Linked DNA regions of Homo sapiens: region 1 is linked to region 2. Evidence: fine-mapped expression QTL. A gene starts in region 2. The other region holds a variant in brackets. All regions are shown on one strand. Distances are from middle to middle.

Region 1 (4,394 bases), 150 kb before region 2:
ATATCCTTTTGAGAGAATGGGAATTAAATAACAAAACGTGACCGATTCAGCCAAATGGGGAGTCTATTATGAAGAGTGAGACAGCTGAATCACAGCAGAGTGGAATGCACTTTTGCTTTATATGTTTTTCCTTTACTCATTCCTTTTTTGGTGTTCCTTTATTATAAAGTTAATATATTATTACCAGCCAGCAGTTACATAGTGCTCACTATGAACCAGGCACAGCTCTAAGCCTTTTGTATACTTTAACCCAAACCATGAGGCACGTACTCTTATTCTCCCCATTTAGGGAGAGAGACAAGAACGTCGATTCCTTCGCCGGTGTTCAGTGGCAGAGCTGGTATTCCAATCCAGGCAGCCCAGCCTCAGAGTCCCGCGCTAATCACTTCCCTATACCACCACACCATGAAAGCACCAAATTCAAAGTCCTAAAATTTAGGGTATCAAAAGAGAGCATCACCATTTACTGTACCTTTCTAACAGAATAATTTGGGTGCATTTCCTACTCTATTCAGCCTTTGGTTTCCAAATCAAGGAATCTTTTAAAAGAAAGAAAGTTCTATATTCAAATAAATATGCTCAACCAAACCGTTTACAAAAACCTTTCCAAGTAGAGATTCTACTCATAGACAAGGCTTCTTTAAAATCAGATCTACTTTTGCATACAATATACTTGTTATTAAAACAATTTTTTCCTTTACAAGCATCTTTACATTATGAAAAACATCTTTCTTAAGAGTATTTATTTTTTGTCTGGCCCACATTTCATTATAATAAGTTCCAAATCACTCATTTTTGAATCCACACATATCCAAGTTTTCAGATAAGAAAAGTGAAGTTAATTTTGTTCTTCTTGAAGTCGCCTGCAGGCTCAGGCTAGATCTCACTTTTTATGGTCTATTTCTGTGCAGATAAGAACATCACATTTAACATGGGAATGTTGGAACTTCTGGAGGCTTCAGCAGGGTTAGCTTCAAAAAACAAGCAAAAAATGCCTCCCACCACATACAGCTTCTATCAGTGATCTTTGACATAAATGTTTCACGATATAGAAGTTAAAGAGTATGCCAGTCACTTGAGGGTTGACCAATGTGAACTGTTATTTCCTAGACTTGAGTACATGCCGCATGTGGTCTATATAAACATTCTTTAAGTTCCTTTGAAATAGACCCACACATATATGGAAAACTGATTTTCAAGAAAGGCGCCAAAGCAATTCAATGGAAAAAGGAAAGTCTTTCCAACAATCCATGTTAGAACAACTGGGAAAATGTATGCAAAAATATGAACCTTGACTTCTACTTAACCCCATATATAAAAATCAACTGGAGATAGATCATAAACTAAAGCATAAAAGCTAAAGCTATAAGTCTTCTAACAGAAGGCACAGAGAAATATCTGCACAATCCTGGGGAGGCAGATTACTTAGGAAACAAAAAATACAGATAATATAGAAATCTTTGTTTTAATTTTTAAAAATATATTTTATTTTTTTGTAGAGAGTTGAGGTCTTGCTATGTTACCTAAGCTGCTCTCAAACTCCTGGGCTCAAGCGATCTTCCCCTGCCTTGGCCTCGCAAAGGAAAAACATTTTTGATCAATGAAATTATTTCAAAGTTAAAACCTTCTGCTCATCAAAAGACACTTTTAAAAAACAGCAGGTAGACCATAGACTGGCAAAATATTTGCATTATAAACTTCTGACAAGAATATTTTATTCAGAATATGTATAACATTCCTACCAACCAAAATAATAAGACAATCCAATTTTAAAACAGGCAAAAGAAAAACAGACTCAAACGACTTGAACAGACACTTCAAAAGGGAAGATACACAAATGGCCAATAAGTATATGTGATTCATCTAGAAAATGCAAATTGAAAACTACAATGAGATACTACTTCATATCCAAGAGAACGACTATAAGTAGAAAAACCAGCAATATACAATGTTAAGATACCTGGTCACCTGGAACTTTCATAAATTGCTTGTTGGAGTGTAAAATGGTACGATTACTTTGGAAAATGAC[T/C]TGGCAGTTTCTTACAGAGGTACACATACACCTAGTGTACGGTGCAGCAATTAAACCTAAAAAAGAGTGAGAGTGGGCCAGGTGTGGTGGCTCACGCCTGTAATCCCAGCACTTTGAGAGGCCGAGGCTGGTGGATCATTTGAGGTCAGGAGTTTGAGACTAGCCTGGCCAACATGGTGAAAGCCCATCTCTACTAAAATTTTAAAAATTAGCCAGGTGTGGTGGTGCGTGCCTGTAGTCCCAGCTACTCAGAAGGCTGAGGCAGGAGAATCGCTTAAGCCTGGGAGGTAGAGGTTGCAGTGAGCTGAGATTGCCCCACTGCAGCTCAGCCTGGGTGACACAGTGGGACTGTCTCAAAATAAAAAATAAAAAAAGAAAGAAAAGAAAAAGAGTGAGAGTGAGAGAAAACTCATTCACAGCAGCTTAATATTCATAGTAGCCAAAAATGGGGAAATAATCAATATGTCAGTCAACAAGAGAACAGAGTTTAAAATTGGGTCTATTCATACAATGGAATACCACCCAGCAATAAAGGAAGAATGATACAGACAACTATATAAAACTGTTGCGTGAAAAAAAAAGCCAGACGCAAAAGAGTATATACTGCATGATTCCATTTAGAGGAAGCTCAAGAACAAGACTGCAATGATAGAAAGCAGAAAGTTTTTGCCAGTGAGGGTGGCGAATGACTGAATGGGGCAAGAGGAAACCTGGTGATAGAAACGTTCTCTCTCTTAACTGGGGTCTGGGAACAGGAGTACACTGAATGTCTGTGCATTTCAATGCATGTAAATTTTACATCAATTAAAATGGAGGGATGGTAGGATTTCCTTAATTGTCTTGACATCCCCATGTCCTCCTGAAGAATGCAATTTGATTCGCACACTTAGATCCCATCAAATGGTGCCTGTATCTGGATTACTTCAGTTCACAACTAGCCATGGCTCTCTCTTCTCTGGGGGACCATCCATACAAGGTATTTCCTCCAGAGGAAAAGAAAGAATTTGCTGGTTCTCCTCTCATTCAACAGTAATAGCCAACCAATAGGCCAGGTCCCAGAACCAGTGTGGGAGTGTTCTACATTCTTGCAGTCACAGAATGTTTTTTTTAGGCCCACCATTTTTCAGCAGACATCTGACAATCCACACTCAGAAACATTCTTCATCTCTAGGAAGTTATGCGAAATAGGTGGGAGAAACAAGGTGTGGAAAGGGGGTGTTTGGCATAGGCTGATGATAGATGTTCTGGTCAATACCAGGAATAAAATCCCAAGTGTGTTCTGCTTGCCTGGGAGCTCACACCCTCAGAGCTAAGTAGATTTCACTACTCTCCATCTCTGCTTCCAAGGGCATGGCCTCAGAGGACTTGCTCTTTGATCTAGAACTGTACAGGAGGCTCTAAGCTGGTAAACAACTTACAGGGGTACAGAGGTCAGATAGGAGAAGGCCCTTATGACCCTTACTATCTTCAACTGTCTCTAAGCAGCTACATTAAAAATAGCTAACATCCATCACTATTACTTTGCAAATTTTAGAGATAGATTTTAGCCTCCTAGTATTGTGCTAGAAATGAGGCTAGGCCTGAGAAGAACCTAAAGCTTCCATCATGTTGCAGTAATTGGCCCTAACTGTGGAATACCTCTGAGAAAGATCTCCAGGGATTTTTCACAAAGAAACTGCTTTCTAAGTAAAAGGAGGGAAGCATGAGATGGAAACATCAATTCAGGCTTTCTTCTGACACAAACGGACACCACTTGTGTCACAAAAGTTAAAGAACTAGTCAACATCTTACTTTTCCCATCTTCACAGTGTCTGCTGACACTTTCAGGACCGACCTGACGAACATGACAAAGGGATAATTAACAAGGGTTTGGAGATTTTTTCCACAAAGGAGATGGGAAAAGAGAATGTGAATTGCTTCTTATAAGGAAAAGAAGAGGGAGTATGAGGGTCTATAGCCCAAGAAATAAATAGTACAGAAGGGAAGAATAGGAAATTCTCTCAGAAGCTCTTATGCTAAAGGGCAGGGAAGAAATCAAGCAAGCGTATCCACATTTAATTTGTATTAAGATCAGGAACAAGTACCACTACTTAAAGATTTTTTTAAATGACTAAGTTGGATGTTTTACAAGATGCAACTTTCTTCTAGCAACAAAGCTAAAAGATCCTCTTATGGGGCTCTATGATTAATGGCTATGTCTTTACTGGCTGGAAAGTGTATCTTTGTATAATAGTGTCAGCCCACTGTTTCCTCCCAATCCAGTAATTGTGAGGGTTTGTTTTCCCAAGCCCCAGTACCCACTGCAGTCATCATGCTCCATCTAATCTTTTTCCTGGCTAAATGCCTGACTAAAGGTATTTCCAAT
Region 2 (4,394 bases):
AAAAAACACTCTCTCAGCCCGGCAGCAGCTCCGGAGGAGCCATGTGGCATCAAGCCACAGCAAAGGGGAAAAAGTGCTCTTAGCAACACAAACATGGCGAAATCGCTCTCACAAGCCGGGTTCCCGCGACAGCCCTACCTTCCCCCGCTCGCCTTCCGAACGTCCTGGCCAGGAACCGCAGACCCCTTCCGGGGGACGGCGAGGGGGCCCCGGGCTGAGCGAGGGTGGGCGCACGGGGCGTGCTAAGGGGAAATTGACTAGCCAGCCGATCAGCTCCGCCGGCAGCGGAGGGGACGCCTTCTTCACGCCCTGAGATCGCAAAGGAGAGCAAAATTCCCATCCCAAAGTCCTGCGGGACCGGCTTCCCCACCCGACGAACTTACCCCAGGGCTGAACGCACGCTGCTTTAGCTCCTTGCCTCGTTCCTTCCTCCCGGGCGCGACGCGAGGTGAAAATGATGCGCACGTAGATTTGTAGAGCGTATTCTTGAGAATTTCCCTGGGATGAATCGGGAGGAGCGGTGGAGACTCCGGAGACAGGTGCCGCGCTGGTCTGGGCTGCCGGCTAAAAGTTGTCCTCCGCGCGGTGGGCGGTGGGGTCCCCGGCCAGGGCCAAGGACCCCGGCTCCCTGCCCCCCGGCGTCGCCCACTTGTCACGCCAGGCTGCTGCGTGCACTCGGCTGCAGGGGAGGTGGCGTAGTTTCTCTTCCTCCCACCTCTTCTCACTCACTTGTTTTTGTAGCCGTGGGCTCCCCTAATGCTTTCCTCTCCACAATGTTGTTTCATTATATCATGTCCATCATGTGACACCAGAGAGGCCTCTCTATGGAAACTTAAAGGGGCTCCCACGTGACTGCAGCAGCAACAACAGCAGCAGGACTGGCGGCGGCGGCCGCAGCGGCGTCCGTACCTCCACCCACCGGGAGCCCCTCGAAGCATCCCGGAGGGGCTTCTGGCGCTGCAGGAGCCCCGATCGGGGAGCCACAGCATCCGGGAGCCGTGGTGTCTGTGCGTGCGTGGAGCCTGTGCTCATGACATAGGAAGCCGAACAGAAGGAGCGTCCTCAAATCCTTTCCTACAGTCACCAAACCCACGCTCTGTTAAAATGACATTTCGTGGCTCCTACTTTGTTTCCCCGGAGAGCAATGAGTTTTCTATCAGGCCTGATTTAGTTTGACAAAAGTCAAAAAGAAAAACTGGATTTGTCCCTCTGCGAGTTCAGTCAGATCGCTGGGAAAACAGAAATGACAAAACAATAATAACAGAAATAGAACCAGGCATTTGATACATAATTACCATCACCACGGCTTTCAAGCTTTCTGGAATTACGTTCCTCCAGTAACTGTTGATGATGCTTGCAGGAGGCAAAATGCAATGCAGTTTTTCTCTTCCGCAGCTATATTAGGGCTTTGTTGCTGACAACAGTGAAAACTTGTTTGTGTCAGGAAGTGAGGTACGGAGATATGACCTGGAAGGTACAGACAAAACCAAAGTGGCAGTTTTTGCATTACTTTTCTGACCACATTCTTTCAAATGGTGACAAGAAGGCGGTCTGCTGTAAAATTCGTGGGGTGTTTGATGGGAAACAAAATAATCAGAAAAACATAATTATCCCTAGCCATACCATACTTGCTAGACGCTAGAAAGTATACATATATGTAATCTCTGTATACATAGAGAAAGCAAAAAGCATGTGCACTTTAATATTTTTGAACCACTAATTTTGTCATCATTTGTACCATTAACAAACACTTGGAAAGACTCACTCAAGTCCAGGGATGTGTGGAAACTCACAATGTTGAGTGCTGTGGGTATTACTGACTCACAGTCCCTTAAAGGGTTTGTACCATAAATCCCAAATTTCTGCCTTAAAGTTTTTACAGACATGGAGATTTTATCCTGTAAATCTAAGCCAGATAGCTATTTCTGGGTTTTTTAGTTCATGCTTTTCCATTTTATAAAGGAAACTGTGTGGATTGGCGGAATCAAGAAAAACTTCGCAAGAAACTGAAGAGTGGGATGGAAGATCTTTTCGTTTGGCCTTGCCTTGACTCTGTCTCTCTCCACCTCATCAGTTTACTTCATCAGCCATGATGAATGAGCTCCATTCCAACCCTTCTAATTCTATAATATCTCTCCCAAGTTTTACCTTCCTATCTCATGCCTAATTCTTTTCATCCCTTTCCTCCTACCTCCCTTGCCTCCCAACTCAGCCCCTTTTCTGCCTGGGGGCTCAGCTCGGGCCTCCCCAAAGACTGTACCCCCCACCCTCCCCTGCAGCTACCCCCACCCCCACGCCCTTCCCAGCTCGGCCTCTCTTCTTTGCAACTCTACCTCCTTACCTCTTTTGACCTCTAATCACCTTCACAGTCTGGCCCTTGACTTCTGGGCCTCTTCTTACCTCTCTTTACCTGAAATGTCCTGGCCCTCACTGGGGTCTCCTCCACACCCTTCTCTCTGGTCCCATCCCTTCTGCTGCCAAGCCCCAGCGTTCCTCCGGCTCGGCCTGGTCAGCTTGAGCCTCATTTTGTTCGCGTGCCCCTGGGCTGGGAAAGGAGTGTGTGGTGCACAGTGGGGCCAAGGATCCCCTGGGGCCGCGGCCTCTGCCTCGCCCCCTCCACCCCTCCCGAGTCCCGGTTGCGGCGCTTCCTGGGCGGATGGCTTGAAATTGCTGCAGCAGCTGCGGTTCTGCTGTGTCATGCAAGAAGGAGGCGGCGGCGGCGGCGGCGGCGGCCGGAGCTGGAGGGGGAGGAGGGGAGGAACCTGATCCTCCGGTAGCGAAGGGCTAGAGGCAAACACCGAGCTCCTCCAGAGCCGCCCGGGAGCAGGGAGGGCTCCGCTAGCCCGGGGGGCCCTCCCCGCGGGGCAGATGGTAAGTGGGGCGGTGCAGGTGGTCGCCTTGGGAAGGGAGCGCGCAGGGGGGTAAGGTGGGGCGGCGGGAAGTGCTAGAAGTCACCCCAGCCAAACTGAAGGAGCCCAGTTTCCAGCTGAGAGGGACCCAGGCCGTAATAAGGATGTCCAGCCAAACGCAGCAATAATTACTATTGGAGTGACGCCCCGAAGTTGACCCCAAGCTACACAGAGGGTGGAGTGGTGCATCCTGAACCCAGGACAGAGCTGGAGGCAATGATTCAGGGTTTGAGAAGTATCAGCCCATCGGCCTGGCGCTTTAAGGTGCAGCTGAGTAGGAAAAGCCAACCCACATCATATTCCCAGAGCCTTGCTGCGCTTTCTGGGTTGTCTTGTTCAAAACTAGTGAAAGGGATGGGAAACCTGCCCAACCTCACTTTAGCCACGAAAATAATGCTCTTGGCCAGTGGCCTTGGACAAACAGCCTCTGGTGCAACAAAACAATCAATAGGAAGAAGAACTTCATTCCCCTCACCATCCTCCTTCCCCAAGTTCCTTTGACCAGCATACCTCATTCGGCTTAAAGGAGAAAGAAAACTATGTGTGACATTCCCTCCCAGCCTACCTGCAGCCAGCCTCCTCACCACACAAACTGCCCATCCCGCTTCTCTCCTCATCTTCAGAGCCATGATTCCAAGAGACATTGCAATACTACTCACTTTAGGTGAGAAGACTGCCTGAAACTCTGAACAATTTCACCTCCCTTGCCCTTTGCCACAGGGGATTCAGAAACCTACAACTGAGAGCAGGGAAATATACGGACAGGCTTGGCACGTAGGAACATTACTTCCTTCACTGGAGTGTAGTTCTCCAGACAACTTTTTAATTATGATTATTCCCTTCCATTGCACTCCTGGAAATTTCAAAGCACTTTCTAAAACATCATTTTTTTTATGTCAGTCATACATTTAGAGGTAAGGGGTTGATGGGATTAACTGAAAGGCTAATGACTGTCTCAAAAGCACATGCTGTTGCTAGGGAACCCAAGCTCCTGCTGCTCTCTAATCACCAGCGTGTTCCGTGGAAATCAAACTGCTCAGGGTGTTATTAAAATGAATGGCATCGGGTTAAAGGCATTCTTGCTTATGTTGTAGCATCCTGGATTATTATCGATTGCCTCACACCCACATATCTTGTTTTCCTAATTTGATTTCTGTATTTGCGTCACTGCCAGGGACACTCAGACTAGACCAGTCAGTTCACTTCCTGTTTCTCAGAACTGGTTTATATTTGGTCTCGTAGCACTAGCTGGTAAAACATTATCAAACTGATCCTCTTGGAAAGAAATCTTTGCTTCCCATTGAAAACAAAATATTCCAATTAAATTGTAATTCCTGTGGAAAACGTCATCATTTGAGGAGTAGACTGCCAGTTGCCATTTGAGAAACAATCCTTGAAATGTAAAGCCTAGAAAAAAAAAACATCATCTTGATTTCTTTTACCCAGAATCTTCATTCCTCAGCACTAGAACTAAGACAAACTCGA

What was found. PIP is the estimated chance that this variant, and not a neighbour inherited with it, causes the effect. A credible set is the group of variants that fine-mapping cannot tell apart.
Region 1: its variant is the best candidate, but not a certain one, in a credible set for the expression of LINC-PINT in blood mononuclear cells (TOPMed, PIP 0.68).

Annotation. Positions count from the first base shown.
Region 1 is chr7:130,952,352-130,956,745 of GRCh38, forward strand. All of the region lies in intron 5 of LINC-PINT (long intergenic non-protein coding RNA, p53 induced transcript), which reads right to left. Among named protein-coding and RNA genes, the nearest start is that of LINC00513, 41 kb to the left of the region's middle. The variant T/C (reference allele first, on the strand shown) is at 2,030.
Region 2 is chr7:131,107,337-131,111,730 of GRCh38, forward strand. It overlaps LINC-PINT (long intergenic non-protein coding RNA, p53 induced transcript), which reads right to left and starts at 2,589. Exons shown (of 8, transcript NR_170176.1): 1 at 2,401-2,589; 2 at 384-1,467. It also overlaps a transcript of MKLN1 not described here. RefSeq lists silencers at 478-527, 548-607, 2,665-2,714, 2,795-2,944, 4,095-4,154 and enhancers at 590-1,441, 3,836-4,377.